Linked DNA regions of Homo sapiens: region 1 is linked to region 2. Evidence: fine-mapped expression QTL. Tissue or cell type: whole blood. Region 2 holds a variant in brackets; the other region holds the start of a gene. All regions are shown on one strand. Distances are from middle to middle.

The links. PIP is the estimated chance that this variant, and not a neighbour inherited with it, causes the effect.
Region 1: C11orf21 starts here. The variant in region 2 is fine-mapped to the expression of C11orf21 in whole blood (INTERVAL, PIP 0.90).

What each region holds. Positions count from the first base shown.
Region 1 is chr11:2,298,316-2,306,315 of GRCh38, forward strand. It overlaps C11orf21 (chromosome 11 open reading frame 21), which reads right to left and starts at 3,603. Exons shown (of 4, transcript NM_001329958.2): 1 at 3,441-3,603; 2 at 2,205-2,298; 3 at 1,113-1,392. The coding sequence starts at 3,493. The coding sequence ends at 1,141. It overlaps TSPAN32 (tetraspanin 32), which reads left to right and starts at 3,698. Exons shown (of 10, transcript NM_139022.3): 1 at 3,698-3,900; 2 at 4,529-4,643; 3 at 5,792-5,889. The coding sequence starts at 3,835. RefSeq lists a silencer at 944-1,238 and an enhancer at 7,602-8,000.
Region 2 is chr11:2,189,989-2,198,328 of GRCh38, forward strand. No RefSeq gene overlaps it. Among named protein-coding and RNA genes, the nearest start is that of MIR4686, 21 kb to the left of the region's middle. The variant T/C (reference allele first, on the strand shown) is at 3,249.

The DNA of each region.
Region 1 (8,000 bases), 110 kb after region 2:
ACTTCTAGGTTCCTGAGAGAGGCAACACTGCACCTTTAAAGGTGTCAGGAGCTCACTGCCCCAGCTGGTCATGAAACAGTCTCTTCATCAAGGGCTAAATAAAGCACGCTGACCACCAGGAATGGGGCAGGAAGCTTCTGCCCTGCAGCCTGCCTTGTCTGCACAGGGAGTGTGGGGACCATTAGGGGGAGGGTCCGATGTGCATTTTTCTGCCAGCGGGACCTTCCCCTGCCCCCAGTCCTGCCCAGGCCCGGGGGGTCACTCTGAAGGCATCTGGCTCTTACCCCAGGCATCTCCTGCCTCTGCCCCACTCCTCCACCCCCACGGGGTGCCGAGTCTCAGCCCAGGCTGGGGTGGCCCAGGCAGGACAGCAGGCTTGGTGGTGCCCGGCCCCACATACTAGTGGGTGGCACAGCGTGGATGTGGATAGAGACGCCTCCCCTACAGTCTGTCCCTGGTATCTGTGACGCAGGTGTGGGGTCCCTTTAGACTCCCCTGGGAGACAGCTGTGTCTATGAAGGGGCAGCCATCCCTGGGTCCCCTCTGCCCTCACTGAGGGCAGAGCCTAGGCTCCTTGGGGGGGGAAGCAGGGTGCCCCTCAGTGCCCACTGGAGTTGGCCAGCGGAGGCAGCAGCCCACGGCACTGAGAGGGAAGGCCCGGGCAGCCATGCCCCAGAAACTCCCTTGGTTGGGAGCAGAGCAGTGCCCAGAGCCCAGAACCCAGTTTGAGTATGGTCTTGGCTCTCAAGGGACAGGCCAGGGTGCCTCCAGGGGAAGGGGGCTGCCCAGGCAGTAGGGGTTCAAAGGTCCCCTGGGGCCCACCCAGCTGACCCAGGCCTAGGGTAATCCAGAAGGGGAGCTGCCCTCCTCCTCCCTGGGCTCAGGAGAGGCTGCAAAGGCAGCTCCTGGGACGTGGATTTCAGAATCAGGGCAAAGGACAGACATGAGCCAGATTCAGGTGCCCGCGTGGCCCCCACAGGTCTCTTCAAGCTCCAGGCCCCACTCGCTGTGACGCAGGTGGGAAGCTCTTGAGTGCCTCCCCGGTGGGAGGGGCCGCGCTCACAGACAGCACAGGGGCCCCCAGGCTCCAGCCTCAGAGCCCGGCTGCTCACCTCTGATGGACAGAAAAGGGTCCCTGTCTCAGGAAGGTAGAGGCTGCCACCTCCTGGCCCGAGGACACAGCTTTCCAGAGGAGGGGCCTGCTTCTAAGTCCAAGTCCCATCCCAGCCGGATAGCCAGGGGCAACTGCCCAGGTAAACTGAGACAGCAGCAGCAGGCAAGCCAGTGCAGAGCTGGGTGATCCACAGGTTCATGAGCGGTGGCAGGTGGAACAAGGGCACCATGGGCGGAGGGTTGGGCAGCTGCAGGTGGCATCATTGAGCCAGGGGCCTCCTGGTGGGTAAGGACATTGTAGAGTGAGCGGGCGCACCTGGGACCCAGGAATTCACAGGAAGGAGAGAGGAAAAAGGAAGTCCCTGGCGGGTAAACACATATGCATGCACACACATCCACGTCTGCACACGCATCCACGCCTGCACACGCATCCATGCCTGCACATGCATCCACGCCCAATCTCTTCCCTGGAAATAAAGCCAGGGGCCCTTAGGCCAGCTTGCAGTGGGGCCCAGCCCTTAGGACAGGCTCCTTGGTGGGGTAGGGGTGGGGGCAGCTGTCCTCCTGGGCCAGCTCCTTGGGGCTGAACCCGCTGCTCGAGGGGTCTTCCAGGCTCCCAGCGGCCGGCACCACCTCTAGAGCAGGTGGGCAGGGGTGTGTGGGGTGGGCAGGGGTTTGTGAGGGTGGGCAGGGGTGTGTGGGGTGGGCAGGGGTGTGTGGGGTGGGCAGGGGCATGTGGGGTGGGCAGGGGTGTGTGAGGTTGGGCAGGGGCGTGTGGGGTGGGCAGGGGTGTGTGAGGGTGGGCAGGGGTGTGTGGGGTGGGCAGGGGTGTGTAAGGTTGGGTAGGGGTGTGTGGGGTGGGCAGGGATGTGTGGGGTGGGCAGCGGTGTGCGGGGTGGGCAGGGGTGTGCGGGGTGGGCAGGAGGGTGTGGGGTGGGCAGCAGCCTGCACAGTGGCTTCCCCTCAACAAGCCACTTCCTCTTGCAGAGGGAATGTTGGGGTGGGAGGGTGTGGCTCAGCAAAGGGCGTGGGGGTTCCACCGGCTCCCTGCCCCCGCTGGTGGGGCACAGTGAGGGGGGCTGTGGTCAGACCTGGTCTCTGGAGGGCCAGCCGGGGGTTCCCGTCCACCTGTCAGGGGGTTCGACGCCACTTTGAGATGACAAGTGAGGCCACCTGGGCACAGCGCTGGTGTGAGAAGGAGGCCATCAGGACAGGTCAAGAACCCAGGCCCGCCCTGCTCCGAAATTCTTCAGACCTGATGAAGAGGTGTCCCAGAAGCGGGTGGTGCTCCAGGCCCGCCTCACCAGCTCCAGGGAGGTCAAGGTTGGAGAGAGACAATTCTAGGGGCGAACCAGACATAGCCAAGAGCAGCTCATCTTCCCTGGAGAGGACGGGCTGCCCACTTGCACAGCCCGGGGGCCTCCTGCCCCTAGACCTGGTACCTTCACTCTTGTTGCCACCCCTACATTCATACCTGCGCCCCAGTCTGAGCCACACCTAGGCCCCCAGCTGAAGTGACACTGTGGGTGCCAGGCATCTGAGGTCTCCACAAGCCCCCACAGACTCAGGGTGGGAATTCCTGGGGGCCAGAGCTGCAGAGGGTGCTGCCTGGGGGTGCTGGGCTGGACGGGGGTCCTGGTTGTCCCTCCTGGTTCTCCTGGTTCTCCCTCCGCAGAGGGAGGGAGGCGGTGGCCTCAGCAGTTCCTCCAGCAGCGTTCCTGAGCGGGCGGCAGCTGGGCCCTCTTCCCACAGCCACGCTGGGGTTGCCATGCCTGCAGGTCTTGGGGCCCCCTCCCCCTTGATGAGGTCCTGACCAAATGCAGGAGGAGCAATTCCAGCACCGAGGGGCGAGCAGAGCCGCCTGTTAGCACTCCTGGGAGGGCCCGGAGTGGTCCCTGAATGATGGATTCACCTGGAACATTTTCACCCTCTTCAGGCCCACCCTGCCCCAGAGGCCCACGGAAACCCTGCCTGTACTGGGGCCGCAGCGCTGCCCCCACCCATACGTAATTACACGGCTCGGTGTAATTGCAAATTCGAGGTTTACAAAGCCTCCCCCTGGAGGCCCCACGTGAGTGTGAGCGAGGCCCCAGCCCACCCCTGTGGCCCCAAGAAGGCTCTGCGACAAAATATCCATGAGTGCCGCCCACGAAGGCATTAAAACCAACGACCTTCTCAAAACTTAAGCTGTCACAGGACATTTCAAAGGGTGTTTCCTAAGAACACCTCAATAATGATGTTCCAAGGAGACCCCATCCAAATTCCTCCAAGGATTACGCCCCCAAGGCCCAGTCCACACTTGCTCACTCCCAGGACGGGGAGCTCACCTCCTCCTCCCCGGGCGCCGTCTCCTCCACATCCCACACCAGGTCCTGCCCATGACTTTCCCCCTCTCAGCGCCGTCCTCAGTGGCCACACCAAGAACGAGGCCATGTCTTCCTGGGAAGGGCCTCAGATGTCAGCAAATGCCCTGGTGTCTTGGGCTGGGCTGGGGGCACCAGGGTGAGGTGGTGGGGGGAGCCAACCTCACTGCCCCTCCCCTTCCTGCCTGCCCTTCTTCCGGGGCACCCAGCAGCTCGGTCCTAGGGCGATGTTGACAGACAGACAGAGGGGCGGATGCAGCCTACCTCCTGGGCAGTGAGCTGCGGTCTGAGGCCCCTGCCCAGCTGGAAACCACAGGGAGGGGAAGGGAGGGGAGGAGAGGAGAGGAGAGGAACCGTCATGGGGCCTTGGAGTCGAGTCAGGGTTGCCAAATGCCAGATGCTGGTCACCTGCTTCTTTATCTTGGTAACAGGCAGGTCGGGCAGGAGTGGGTGGTGGGTGGGGGTGAGCAGGGGTGAGGGGTGGCAGGGCCTCAGCACAGGGATTATCCCTCCCCTGACACACACACCAGCCCTACTGTCCCTGTCCTGCCCTTGCAGACATGTGTCCTGCCCTTGCAGACAGCCGCAGGCAGGCAGGGACCACCATGAGCAACCCCGTCTCTCCTCCTGAGGGGCAGCACAGAGCCTGGAGGAGGCCTGAGTGGGGCTGAGGCCTGGGGCGAGCTGGGGTGGAGGGGCACTGGCTGCCGGGCTCCAGGGATCTTCTCCCCTTCCTGCCCCGGAGGGTGCTGGCACAGGGGTGGGGCTCACTCCCACTCCGTAGACACAATGATCAGAGGTCCTGGGTGTCTGGGGAAGCTGGGCTGTGCGTGTATGCGTCTACCATGTGGGGGTGCCTGTGAGTGTGCTGGGGCGTCTGCAGTGAAGGCCTCCTGAGACCACTCCACGGAAACACCGGGAATCCCTGCAGCTGAGCCTGTCTCTCACGGGACCGGGAAGCTGGAGAGAGCCCCAACCCTGCCCGCTGGGGCCGAGCTCCCTGCTCCTGCAGCAGTCCCATGCCCCACACTCTGAGTCTGCCCTATCCACAGCTGCTGGGCCTCTCTGTGGCCACCATGGTGACTCTTACCTACTTCGGGGCCCACTTTGCTGTCATCCGCCGAGCGTCCCTGGAGAAGAACCCGTACCAGGCTGTGCACCAATGGGGTAAGTGAGGTCCAGGCCTGGCTGCATCGGGAGGGGCCTCGGGTGCAAGGGTGGCTGGCACGAGCCCAGCTGGACGCCTCACAGCCAGAATGGTGCCAGGCCCTAGGCAGGAGCCAGAGGTGGTCAGGGGCAGGGAGGGGCTGCCCTGGAGTCCTAGCTCCCCTGGGCAGGGCCTCGGGTCTGGGTGACAGCCAGTGTTCCTGCCTGGTTCTCGTGCCCCACAGGAGCGTGGGCACAGTGTGGGTATATGTCGGGCAGGGTCAGGAAGTGGCTCTGTGCGGTCAGGACCTGGCTCTGTGCAGTCAGGGCTCAGTCCCAGGCAGGCCTGGGACTGGCCTGGGGCTGGGCACAGCAGGTCCATGAGGGCTCCACATGGCTGATGTTCCACTCAGGACCTGGGATGTGGGTGGGGAGGGGGTGGGGGCTGCTCTAGCCAGACGCCTCCCTGCAGGGACTCAGCAGCGACTTATCCAACATCCAGAGAGCGGGAGCGAGGGCCAGAGCCTGCTGGGGCCACTCAGGGGTAAGGCTGAGGAAGGCCCCTTTAATGAGGGGATGTCAGAGCCAGATCTGCAGGGGACTCTCAGGCAGGAGCTCAGGGGGCCCAGGAAGGCTGCAGCCCGGTGGGCAGATGTAGGGAAACTGAGGCCCAGGAGGTCAGGGATACTGCCTTAGAACCCAATGCTTTTCCCCAAGTCCTAGGACCAGGGCCTCCCTGGAGGAGGACGCCTGGGGCCCAGGTCCAGGTCCGGACTGATAAGATTACAGCTCCAGTCCGGCCACTTGTCACTAGGACATGGCAGGAGGATGCCTGGGGCCCAGGTCCAGGTCCAGACTGATAAGATTACAGCTCCAGTCCGGCCACTTGTCACTAGGGCATGGCAGGGAGCATGTGGCTTCCAAGATAGCCCCACAGGCATGGAGGGCAGGGAGGAAAAGAGGGAAGGAGGGGCAGTCCCCCAGGCTGAACGAGTCCCACCTCCCTCCTCCTTCCCTCAGGGCCGTCTGATGGAGAGACAGGCCCATTCAGAGCCCCCCAGGAGTCCCTCACGGCCCCTGACTCCCAAGTTAGATTTCACACCCAGGCTGTGTGCACTCAGGACCTGTCCTGGGCACCCCTAACCCTCCTCCTCTCTCCTCCCAACCAGCCTTCTCTGCGGGGTTGAGCCTGGTGGGCCTCCTGACTCTGGGAGCCGTGCTGAGCGCTGCAGCCACCGTGAGGGAGGCCCAGGGCCTCATGGCAGGGGTGAGTTCATTGTGTTCCCAGATGCCCAGGCCCCCAGAAAAGAATTAGAAAGGAGTGAAGAGCTGGCAGGGCTGTGTGCCACCCCCACACCTGAGTGACCAGGCAGAACCAGAGGCCCCAGGGATGCTGGCCAGCCGAGACCCCCACGTCAACCCCACACCTGAGTATCTAGGCAGAAACAGAGGCCCCAGGGATGCTAGCCAGCCGAGACCCCCTACCTGGGTAGCCAAGGCCCCTCCACCAGGCCCTACCTCACCCTGTCATCTACACGCCCAACAAGGGTTCCTATAGGAGCTCTGAAAGAGAGAGACGGCCCTCCTGACCCTGGGAGCTGTTTCCAAAGTCCCTGGGAGGGTCTGGTTCTATTGCCCAGCAAGCTCTGGGAGGGCACTGGGAGCATCCCATTTCCTGTTCGGAGGAGGCCGGGCCAGGCTCAGGAAACGCCCCTTGAGCTCTCCAGCCTGGGCTCTCCGGAGCTGCACACTCTCCTTCCCAGCTGCCGGAGGTGTCTCCCCAGCCCCGAGGTCCCATAGGCCCCTCCACCCCACCCCATAGCAGTGGCCTCTTGTCACCCTCATTCCTACTCCTCCCCATGGGCTTCTGTCTTGGTCCCTGCCACTCGATGGTCATCGCAGACCCCACCTGGCGGCAGCCTCCCCACGCCTGTCCTGCCCCTGCTAGGCCCACAGCCCTCTTCTCTCACCCCAGCTGGGGCAGCTCCTCCCTGGCGCCCCGGGCTCCCACCTGTCCCTCTAGCCTCCCGTCTCCCCTTTCCAGCCATGAGGAGCTTGTGCTGGGGGCTTTGCTTCCCTGTTTAGCCTGTGAAGCTGGACCACTCTGGGGGTCCCTGAGGGCAGAGCCTCCTGGGTCCCCAGGGCTGGCAGGGTTTTCAGCTCAGCCTTCAAGTTCAGCAAATGCTTGTTTAATGACCCTGGTTTATAAATGTCTCCAAGAATAGGAATAGAGTCACCTCCTGGAGCTGCTGCCGGGCCAACCAGCCCTGGGTGGGCCCATGGTGGGCAGAGGAGGACCCAGCAGCTCCAGCACTAGCCAGGATTCCTGCTCCGGGGCACACGAGCATGGGCAGGGACAACCCCGGCCTGTGCTATCTGGCTTCAGGGCCAGGTGGGAGGCCCCAGTGGGGAGATGACAAGGCAGGTAGTCTGCCCCCCCCCCCAGAGGGTGTGTGGCCTGCAAAGGGACACCTGGATGGAAGAAAAGGTTGGCAACAGGGCCAGGCCAAGGGGTCCAGGTCAGAGCTGGAGGCCCAGAAAGAACCAGCGCTGGGGCTGCAGTACCGTCCACCAGGGGGTGCCATGGTGCTGGGCTTGAGGCCACATATGCAGAAGCCAGCCGCTGGGCCACGGGGCTCCTGTCCCAGTCACCAGCCTTTCCCACCCCACCTTGCCCCCGTGCACAAACCAGTCTAGCACCCTCATCTGTGGCCAAGGCGGTCAGGGAGCACCTGGGCTCAGGTTCTGTGTCCCCAGCCAGCCCCAAGGCCAGGGTGACTTGACATGTGGGTCAGGCCTGTAGAGCAGCCTTGGAGGCCCCCAACTGGATGCCTGCACTGGGCTGGGGTCCTGAGGACACTCCAGTCCCAGCTGGGTGGGCTCCAGCACAGCTCCCAAGCCCCAATGCACTTAGACCCAGCCTGGATGGTGAGCTCAGCATGGCCACAGCAGGGAGCTGGGAGACCCCAGTCAAGAGACCTGCTCCATTGAGCTGCATGCATGTGTGTGCATGAGGGTGAGCCTATGTGTATGCGTGTGCAAATATACATGTGTGTGTGCATGTGCATGAGTGTGTGTGTGCATGTGTGTGTGCGTGTGCAGGTGCCTCTGTGTGTGTGTGTGTGTGTGTGTGTAAGTATCTGTCACCGGTCTTCACCTGCCCCTGTTGCCATACGGGTGTGGTGTCTGCGTGTTGCATCTGGCACATCTGTATGTGTGTCTGCACGCATGAGCACAAGTGAAGGGGCTAGGGAAGGGGAGCAGGGAGTGGAAAGATTTTTTCCAATGGGCTGGGCGCCTGGATGCTCCCCACAAAGCCCCTTCCTGCCTGCCCCCACCCCTCCGGCCTCTCCCCTAGCTGGCCTCTCGCACAGGAAA
Region 2 (8,340 bases):
AGTTTCCACCGCAGTCAGCGTGCACAGAGGCCTGGGCTGGAGGCAGAGACCGGCCGGGTCAGTGGCAAGGCTGTCTCTCAGCAACCCTGGGGCAGAGCAAGCAGCTCCTCCCGGGAGGCCAGGGGGGCACTGGACACAGGCCCACTCAGGGGCCGGGCAGCTGGTGGGCACACCCCCCGGGTGCTGGGAGTGCACAGCCACTGAGGCAGCACCTCAGGGAGCCCTGGGGCGTGTCCCCTCTGGGTCTACACAGCACTAAGGCCGCCCCTGGGGCATAAGGTCGGCAGCCTGCCTGCCACGGCACTGCGCTGCCTGTGCCCTCCTCATGGGCAGAGTGGGCATCCAGAGCCTGGCAGGACCCCCTCTGGCTTGTTGTCCACAAGTCCCCAGTTACACAGCCCAGGCCGGCTTCCGAGGGGCACGGTGACAGAGCCTCTCCCCGCCCTCTGCAGGAAGCCGGGAAAGAAGGGTGGACCCTTCCCGTTCCAGGCTGCTCCCGCCCCACAGGGATGGCCGTGTTGGCGGTGAAGCCTGAGGCTCAGGGTCCAGGCAGAAAGCGCTGGTTCCTCCAGACTGCCAAGCGCGGTTGCTATTTATTTCTTCTCCATTAAAAGCCTCGGGACCGTTTATTGATTTCTTGCTAAGATGTGTTATCGTCCATGATACAGCAAAGTGAACAAAACTGGAGAAAACAGGGGCAGAGGCGAAGGCGAACGCACACGTGGCCGCCCTGCTAATGGGGCTCTGAGCATCTTGTTTCGCTGTCACCGCAGGTGGCCTTGCTGCCATCATCCCGCTGCGTGTCAGAAACCTTTTCCATGGCGTCTGTATCAATCCGCTTTTAACAAGGAGGAAGGAAGGGCCCGAGCCCGTGCCAGCTGCCTGGGGGTGAGGGCTGCCTGCCCCTGGGCCTTCGGCTGAGTAGGTTTGGAAAGCACTCCCTTTGTCTAATTACGCCTGATCCGGTATCCAGGGAAACAGCTGCATCTTAATCCTCAGGGCAGGACGTTAGTTTGTCTTTTATCTGTCCACAATCGGCACCGGGGCCACGTGGAGCCAAATTGTGTTGACTTCTTGCACGCACGCGGAGGCTAATTGCAGGGACACGGAAAGCCAGAGACCCCTGAGAGTGGAGCAGCCTCCCAGTGTGCAGGGGGCAGAGCCGGGGGCTGCCCATGCTGAGCAAGCCCAGGGCACCTGCCTGGCGGGAAGGTCGGGGTGGAGGAAGCGGATGCAGGTGGCTGAGATTGCAGAGGGAGAAAGCAAAGGAGGAAGGAGAGAGAGGGAAGGAGGAGGATGAGGGAGGGGAAGGAGGAGGCCCTGAGGCTGTCTCAGGGAGGGGCCTGGGGCCTAGGACTCTGAGGAAGAGGAACAGAACTGTTCCCCAGTCCCCTTTGTCTGTTGACTTTGTCACCAGGCACATGCTAACCTTTCGGTGGACGAGGGTGTTGGTGGCTTCAATTTGTTATTGAGGAAGCACAGATTTTTGTTTTCGTTTTGAGACAGGTCTCTCTCTGTCACCCAGGCTGGAGTGCAGTGGCAGGATCATGGCTCACTGCAATCTCCATGGCCTCAATCAATCCTCCGACCTCAGCCTCCTGAGTAGCTGGGACTACAGGTACACGCCACCATGCCCTGCGAATTTGAAAACAATTTTTTGTAGAGACGGGGTCTCACTGTGTTGCCCAGGCTAGTCTCAAACTCCTGGGCTTAAGCGATGCCCCTGCCTTGACCACCCAAAGCATTGGGATTACAGGCTTGAGCCACCACACCTGGCCTGAAACCACAGTTTTTTAACTGAAAAAATAGGTATATATATATTTACGATTAAAAGAGTAACCCCACGCTCACTAGAAAAATGCAAAAGATACAGAAATGCATAAAGAAACCAAATGGCCTCAGAACTCCTAAAGCAAACACACGGACTAGGTAAAGTCCCCTGGGGAACAATCTGTGACCCCTCCTCCCCGAGCCTGGATAAATCAGGTGCCCTGTGTGGACACCCCATGGGACACGAGATTCAAAGTGGTGGCTATGTCTGGGGAAGGAGGGAAGGAGGGAGGGAAGCACAGTGAGCCAGGGGCGTGGGCAGGGCTGGTTTCTTGTTCTTTAAATCAAGGTGCACATGAGGCTAAGTCCAGGTTTGACAGAGCTGGGCGGTGGCCACTCCATGGTGCTGGTGATGACTATCTTTGTGAACCGAGACGGCCAATCATTAACATCCCCTAGACCCCTGGGGTACACCCTGGAGGGGCCCCTGCTAGGTGTGGTGTGACTTCTCAGGGGGGAAGCAGAAATGCACCCTCCTGGGTCACCCCCTCCAGGCTGAGACCCGAGGGGGTCTCAGTTCACTGTGACCTCGGCAGCGAGAGGTCCCCAGCCATAGGCCCTGTGGTCCAGCCAGGGCTCCCGACCTCCCAGCTCCCCGCCCCCCCATATTCCACACCCAAAGGAGGTGATTTTTCTCTCAGAAAGCGGGGGCTTGTTGGCTTAACCTGGGACACTCCTGGCCCGGCAGTCAATAGAGCAGCTGTCTCCAGGCTGGCCGAGGGCATGCCCGTGGGCAGGGGTCCATGTCGTGAGCTACCAGGGTGCCCCCCATGGTTGGGTGCTCTCCCCACAGCACAAAAACTCGGCTCCAAGGAGGATCAGCCATTCCCGGAGGGAGTGGAGGCTCAGGGACCCCCCACCAAGGGCCTGGTCTGGGGCAGCTGGGACTGAGCAGTCTTCTTCAGGGGAGCAGCCTTGGGAACCCCAGAAGGCAGAGCCCGGTGTCTTGAGCTGACTCTGCAGGGGGGTGCACAGCGGCCGACCACTGCATGTGGGCCCCCCTCCCTCCCTTTCTCCCCTGTTTCCAGGGGTAAGGCTGGCTACAGCCCTGCCCACTGAGGGGCCAGTGTTGTCCTGGGCATCAGGCACTGGTGCAGGGTCTGACAGTGTCTAGGTAAACAGGAGAGAGGCTGCCTGGGGGCAGCTCAGAGGCCAGAACAGGGTTGGCCCTGGGGAGGTTGCTGTGTAAAAACGAGGCCCAGCTTGGTGGCGCATGCCTGTAATCCCGGCCACTCAGGAGGCTGAGGCAGGAGAATAGCTTGAACCAGGGAGTCAGAGTTTGCAGTGAGCCGAGATTGTGCCACCGCACTCCAGCCTGGGCCACAGAGTGAGACTCCGTCTCCTCAAAAAAAAGAGGAGGCCCAGGCTCGAGGCCTCATTTGGCCACTCTCCGGTGGGCCTCAGTGTCCCCACCTGGG[T/C]GGCATGTGTCCTTATACCAACCCCGTGGGCTACGGTGGGAATCAGCGGAGTGACAGGGTGCAATGATGGCTCAGGCAGATACAGTGGCGTCACAGGGCCTGGTGGGTGCACCAGCCCCAGACGGTCCTGCTGGCTGTGGCACAAGATGTTCTCTCCCAGGATGTGCATCCTGACCTTGCCTGCGGGCACCGCTGAGCTGCTCTGCTCTGCGACACAGTGGCCCTGGTCTGTGTCACTGTGACAGGTGACACCATTGCTCCGCTCCACTGGGAGGTAGGCAGAGGCTCCAGGCAGGGGCAGGGTGTGCCGTGTGCTGTCCTCAGCAGCGGGGAGACCGAGGAAGGCACAGCTCTGTCAGGATGCGGGCTGGGGGTCAATTAAGGAGAGACCGTCCATGAGGGCAGCAGGGGCCCAAGTGGACACAGGGAGGGGAAAAGCAGGGGCAGGAATGGAGGCACCATCGGGCCGGCCTGGAGCAGGGAGTACAGGGTGGAGCACGGGGCGGGAGCTCGGCACAGTGCCCAGCAGGGGCCCAGCCCCACCCTTGTTCTTGGAAGGGCCTCAGCTACAGGCCTGCAGGGAAGCTCCTGTTTACTGTCCGGTCCACCCTCGCTGGGGGCTGCTATGAACCCCATGGAGGGCAGGCCCCTGGGAATCCACCCACAGGGACACCCCACCTGAAACCCCATACTCGAGGCCTAGCCCTCTGTACCCTCGGCCCCACGTTCTTCTCCCTCAAGACCCCAGACTCCAAACCCGGGGGGTGGGGAGCTGGGGCCTGTGCCCGGGGACTTATCAGAGTAGTGCTGGTGTTGAAACAGCTGCGATTTGTGCGCACACATGGGAGAGTCAGAGCGTGTGAGCCCGGCCCTGTGTGCACACACATGTGAGAGTCAGAGTGTGTGAGCCCGGCCCTGTGTGCACACATGTGAGAGTCAGAGTGTGTGAACCTGGCCCTGTGTGCACACATGTGAGAGTCAGAGTGTGTGAGCCCGGCCCTGTGTGCACACATGTGAGAGTCAGAGTGTGTGAGCCCGGCCCTGTGTGCACACATGTGAGAGTCAGAGTGTGTGAGCCCGGCCCTGTGTGCACACATGTGAGAGTCAGAGTGTGTGAACCTGGCCCTGTGTGCACCCGTGTGTGCATGCCGAGGGTCAATGGAAGACCAGGCCACCTGTGAAGGCCAGCTTAGCCTGCTGAGAGCGGTGATGGTGGCTGCAAGCGGGGACAGGGAGGGAGGGGACAGCAGATGGGGAGGCGTTGGGTCCTGGTCCTGCCGCCCAGCTGGATCTGGGACCTGCCTGCAGGGACAGGGACAAACCTGAGCAGGCTGTGCGCCCTTCCTGGGCACAAGGGTCTCCATGGTGTGCACGGGTGCTTCTGCAGGGCATGGACGTGAGTTTGCTGCAGATGGGCTGAGTGTGTGTGCGTTTGTATGTGACTGCGTGCATCTGTGGGCTGAGAAGTTGCAAGTATGTTTCTCCCTGGATCATGTTGATCTGGGATATGGATGGGGTGGGGTCCTGGGTCCTGCAGCTTCCCTGGCCCCTGCACCCTGAGCTCACCCCAGGGACCCTCCAGCATGCTTGCTCCCAGGGGCTCCGGCGCCTGCCCCACTCCCACTTGTCCACACCCTCTAGCTCCGTGGATGGGGATGGCTGCAGCCACACTCAAGCCCATGCCCCAGCTAAGCTCCGCTGGCCACCGCTCCTCTTCTCTGCAGCTGTCATCCTCTCTCTTGCTGCCTGGGGTGCACACTTCTTGGTGGGTGGCAGGTGGCAGGCATGCTGGGCCATCTCTGTCCTTGCAGACTGAGGCCCAGCCCCTTCCCTGGTGTTCCCTGAGGCTGGCACCCCCTTGCGGCCATCTGCGGCATAACCTCGCTCCCGGCCGCCTGTGCCGGAAAGAGGCTGGGGGTCCACAAAGCCCCCTCCCTGCCCGGGGAGGGGCCTGGCAGGCAAACCTGACAGGGCAGTCTGTGGGGACATTTGTGGGCACCTCAGGGGCCCCCGGGCCAGCTGGCATCGGGTGCACTGAAGGTGGGTGCCCATGGGCCCCAATTTCCCAGATGCCTCTGGGCTCCCCAAGTCCCTGACATGGTCAGTCAGGGGTAGAATTTTCTAGGGACACTTCCACACAGCTCCCAGACACCCAGGTAGGAGCAGGGGGCTTCTCGAAAGGTCTCTGGAGGCCTGAGAGGACCTCTGCCCCTCACTGACTCCCACCAAGGGCTCTTTCCTCCCTTCTGAATTGGCCAGCCCACCCTTAGCAAACCGGCCATGCAGTGAGCACTCATGCAGTCAGGCCCTGGCTTGTTCTGGGGGGCCACGCGGCTCCAAGTTCAGACCCCAGCCCTGAGCAAGGCTGCTCCCCGCTTCCCGCCCCCGGGGAGGGTTGCGCTGAGGTATTCGCAATGGGGCACCCCCCAGCTTTGCAGGGCACTGGTGGCCTCGCAAATTTGTGCAGCACCACGACGCCCTGGGGCTGTATTTCCATCACCCCCATTCCACAGGTGGGAAAACGGAAGCCTGTGGACAGTGAGTGGCAGCGGGGCCCAGGCCTTCAGACTAGGGGAGCCAGGCTGCTTCCACCTCCTTGAGGAAGAGGCATCTTGGGAGGAGGGCGTCCTGGCCTGCCAAGATGGGGGGCCGGTGCCCACCCCTGCCTGTGAGTCAGGGCATCAGATCTCGTGGGCACCACTCACAGGGGCAGATGTGGCAGGGGTCAGCTTGGGCCTGGGCTGGATCTGGGGTCTTGGCATCAGGGGGCTGAATCTGGCCTGGTAGAGGGTGGGCCGTCCCTGGGCTGTGCTGTGGCCCAGCTGGCTCTGGGCTCCAGCCACCGCCATGCTCACTATTATCCTCGAGAAACCGGTGGGCCCAGGAACACTGGGGGGAGGTGAAGACCTGGGTTCTGGACCACACAGGTCATGGGGGTCTCCATCTGTAGCAGGGAGAGGGGTAGAGGGTTTGAGGTGAACAGAAGGATGGGTGTGTGGCCTCATCAGTCTCTGTTTCTCTGTTTGCCTCTGTCTCTACCTGCCTCTCTCCCCATCTCTGTCTATCTCTATCTGTGTCTCTGTCTGTCTGTCTCCATCTCTATCTGTCTCTTCCCCATCTGTCTCTATCTTTGCGTCTCTATTTCTCTGCTTCTGTCTCTGTCTCTGTTTCTCTTCCCATCTCTGTCTCTCTCTAATTCTGTCTTTGTATCTCCATCTCTTTCTCCATTTCTGCATCTCTGTCTCCCCATCTGTGTCTCCCTGTCTCTGCGTCTCTGTTCCCCCGTCTCTCTGTTTCTGTCTGTCTATCTCCCCGTGTCTGTGTCCCTGTCTCTGCATCTCCGTCTGCTTGTCTCTGTCTTCATCTCTGTGCCTCTGTCTCCCCGTCTCCTTCCCTCTGTCTCCCTGTCTCTCTGTCTTTGTCTCCCTGTGTCTCTGTCTCCCCGTCTCTGTCTCCATCTCTGCATCTCTGTCTCCCCGCCTCCATCTCTCTTCTGTCTCCCTGCGTCTCTGTCTCCTCATCTCTGTCTTCGTCTCCGCGTCTCTGTCTCCCCGTCTCCATCCCTCTGTCTCTCTGTGTCTCTGTCTCCCTGTCTCTCTGTTTCTGTCTCTCTGTCTCCATCTCTGTGTCTCTGTCTCCCCGCCTCCATCTCTCTTCTGTCTCTCTGCATCTCTGTCTCCCCATCTCTGTGTCCTTGTCTCTGTGTCTCTGTCTCCTCATCTCTGTCTTCATCTCTATGTCTCTGTCTCCCCTTCTCCATCTCTCTGTCTCTCTGTGTCTCTGTCTCCCTGTCTTTGTCTCTCTGTGTCTCTGTCTCCCTGTCTCTGTCTCCATCTCTGCATCTCTGTCTCCCCACCTCCATCTCTCTTCTGTCTCTCTGCATCTCTGTCTCCCCATCTCTGTGTCCCTGTCTCTGCGCCTCTGTCTCCTCATCTCTGTCTCTCTGTGTCTCTGTCTCCCTGTCTCTCTGTCTCTGTCTCTCTGCGTCTCTGTCTCCCCGCCTCCATCTCTCTGCATCTCTGTCTCCCTGTCTCTGTGTCCCCGTCCCCGTGTCTCTGTCTCCCATCTCACATGTACAGTCGGAGAGGAGGAGGAGCCCTGGGTGCTGAAGGCAGAAGTCAGGCCGAGGAGCCGCCCTGCAGGGTGTCCAGGTGGCCACACGGTGGGGCCCTCGTCCCATGTCCAGGTGGCCGGGCTGCAGGAGGAGGGTGCTGGTTCCTCAAGGAGGAGAGGGGCTGGGAAGGGGTCAGGAAAGGGGAGCTGGGGTGGGACTCAGGGGGTCTCCATCAGATTGCTCTCAGGGAACCAGGCTGGTCCCCAGGACCCCGAGGGAGGGACAGGACCGCAGGAGGTGCGGCTCAACCGTGACTGCCACAGGAGTGGGGCAGGGGAAGGGTGGCGGGGCCAGGCGTGGGCCGCCCGAGGTGCTGACACTGCCAGGCAGGGCAGGGGTTGCTCACGTCCCAGGAGGCCCCCATAAGACTCCCACAGTCGAGTGCAGAGGTCTCCGAAGCAACTCAGTCCCGCCTACAATCTAGCCATGGGGCTTGGGCTTAACGGGGGTCAATGGGCGCCAGGCCTGAGGACGTGGGGCCCCCAGACACACTTTCTCTACAGGCACGTCGCATGCCACACACCACACATGCACACACACACTTGCGGGCCCTGCAAACACGCGTGCGCAGATGCCAGCACACACGGCCCTACGCGCAGCACACACAGTCACACACACGCCCTCGGCGGCCTCCTGCACAGCTGTGCACTCTTACACCACAGGAGAAAGGAAAGAATCACACCCCAGCCCAGAAAGAGACCACCGTGTGGCACCACAGCCCAGCCTGCAGGGTAGCAGGGGAGAGGCCAGCAAGTGACAAACGGGGGCCGGTCCGCAACCCCAGCTCCCTAACCAGGCACCAACTGCCGGGGCATCTTGGCCCCTGGGCTTCAGCTCCCCTGGGAGGATCCACATGGCCAGGCCGCACACATGCCCCACCCCTCCCCACCCAGCTCAACGTCCTCCATCACCCACACCCCACGTGCCCTGTGCCATCCCACTCAGGACCTCGCTGCTTCCTTTCTCCCAGGGCAAAGC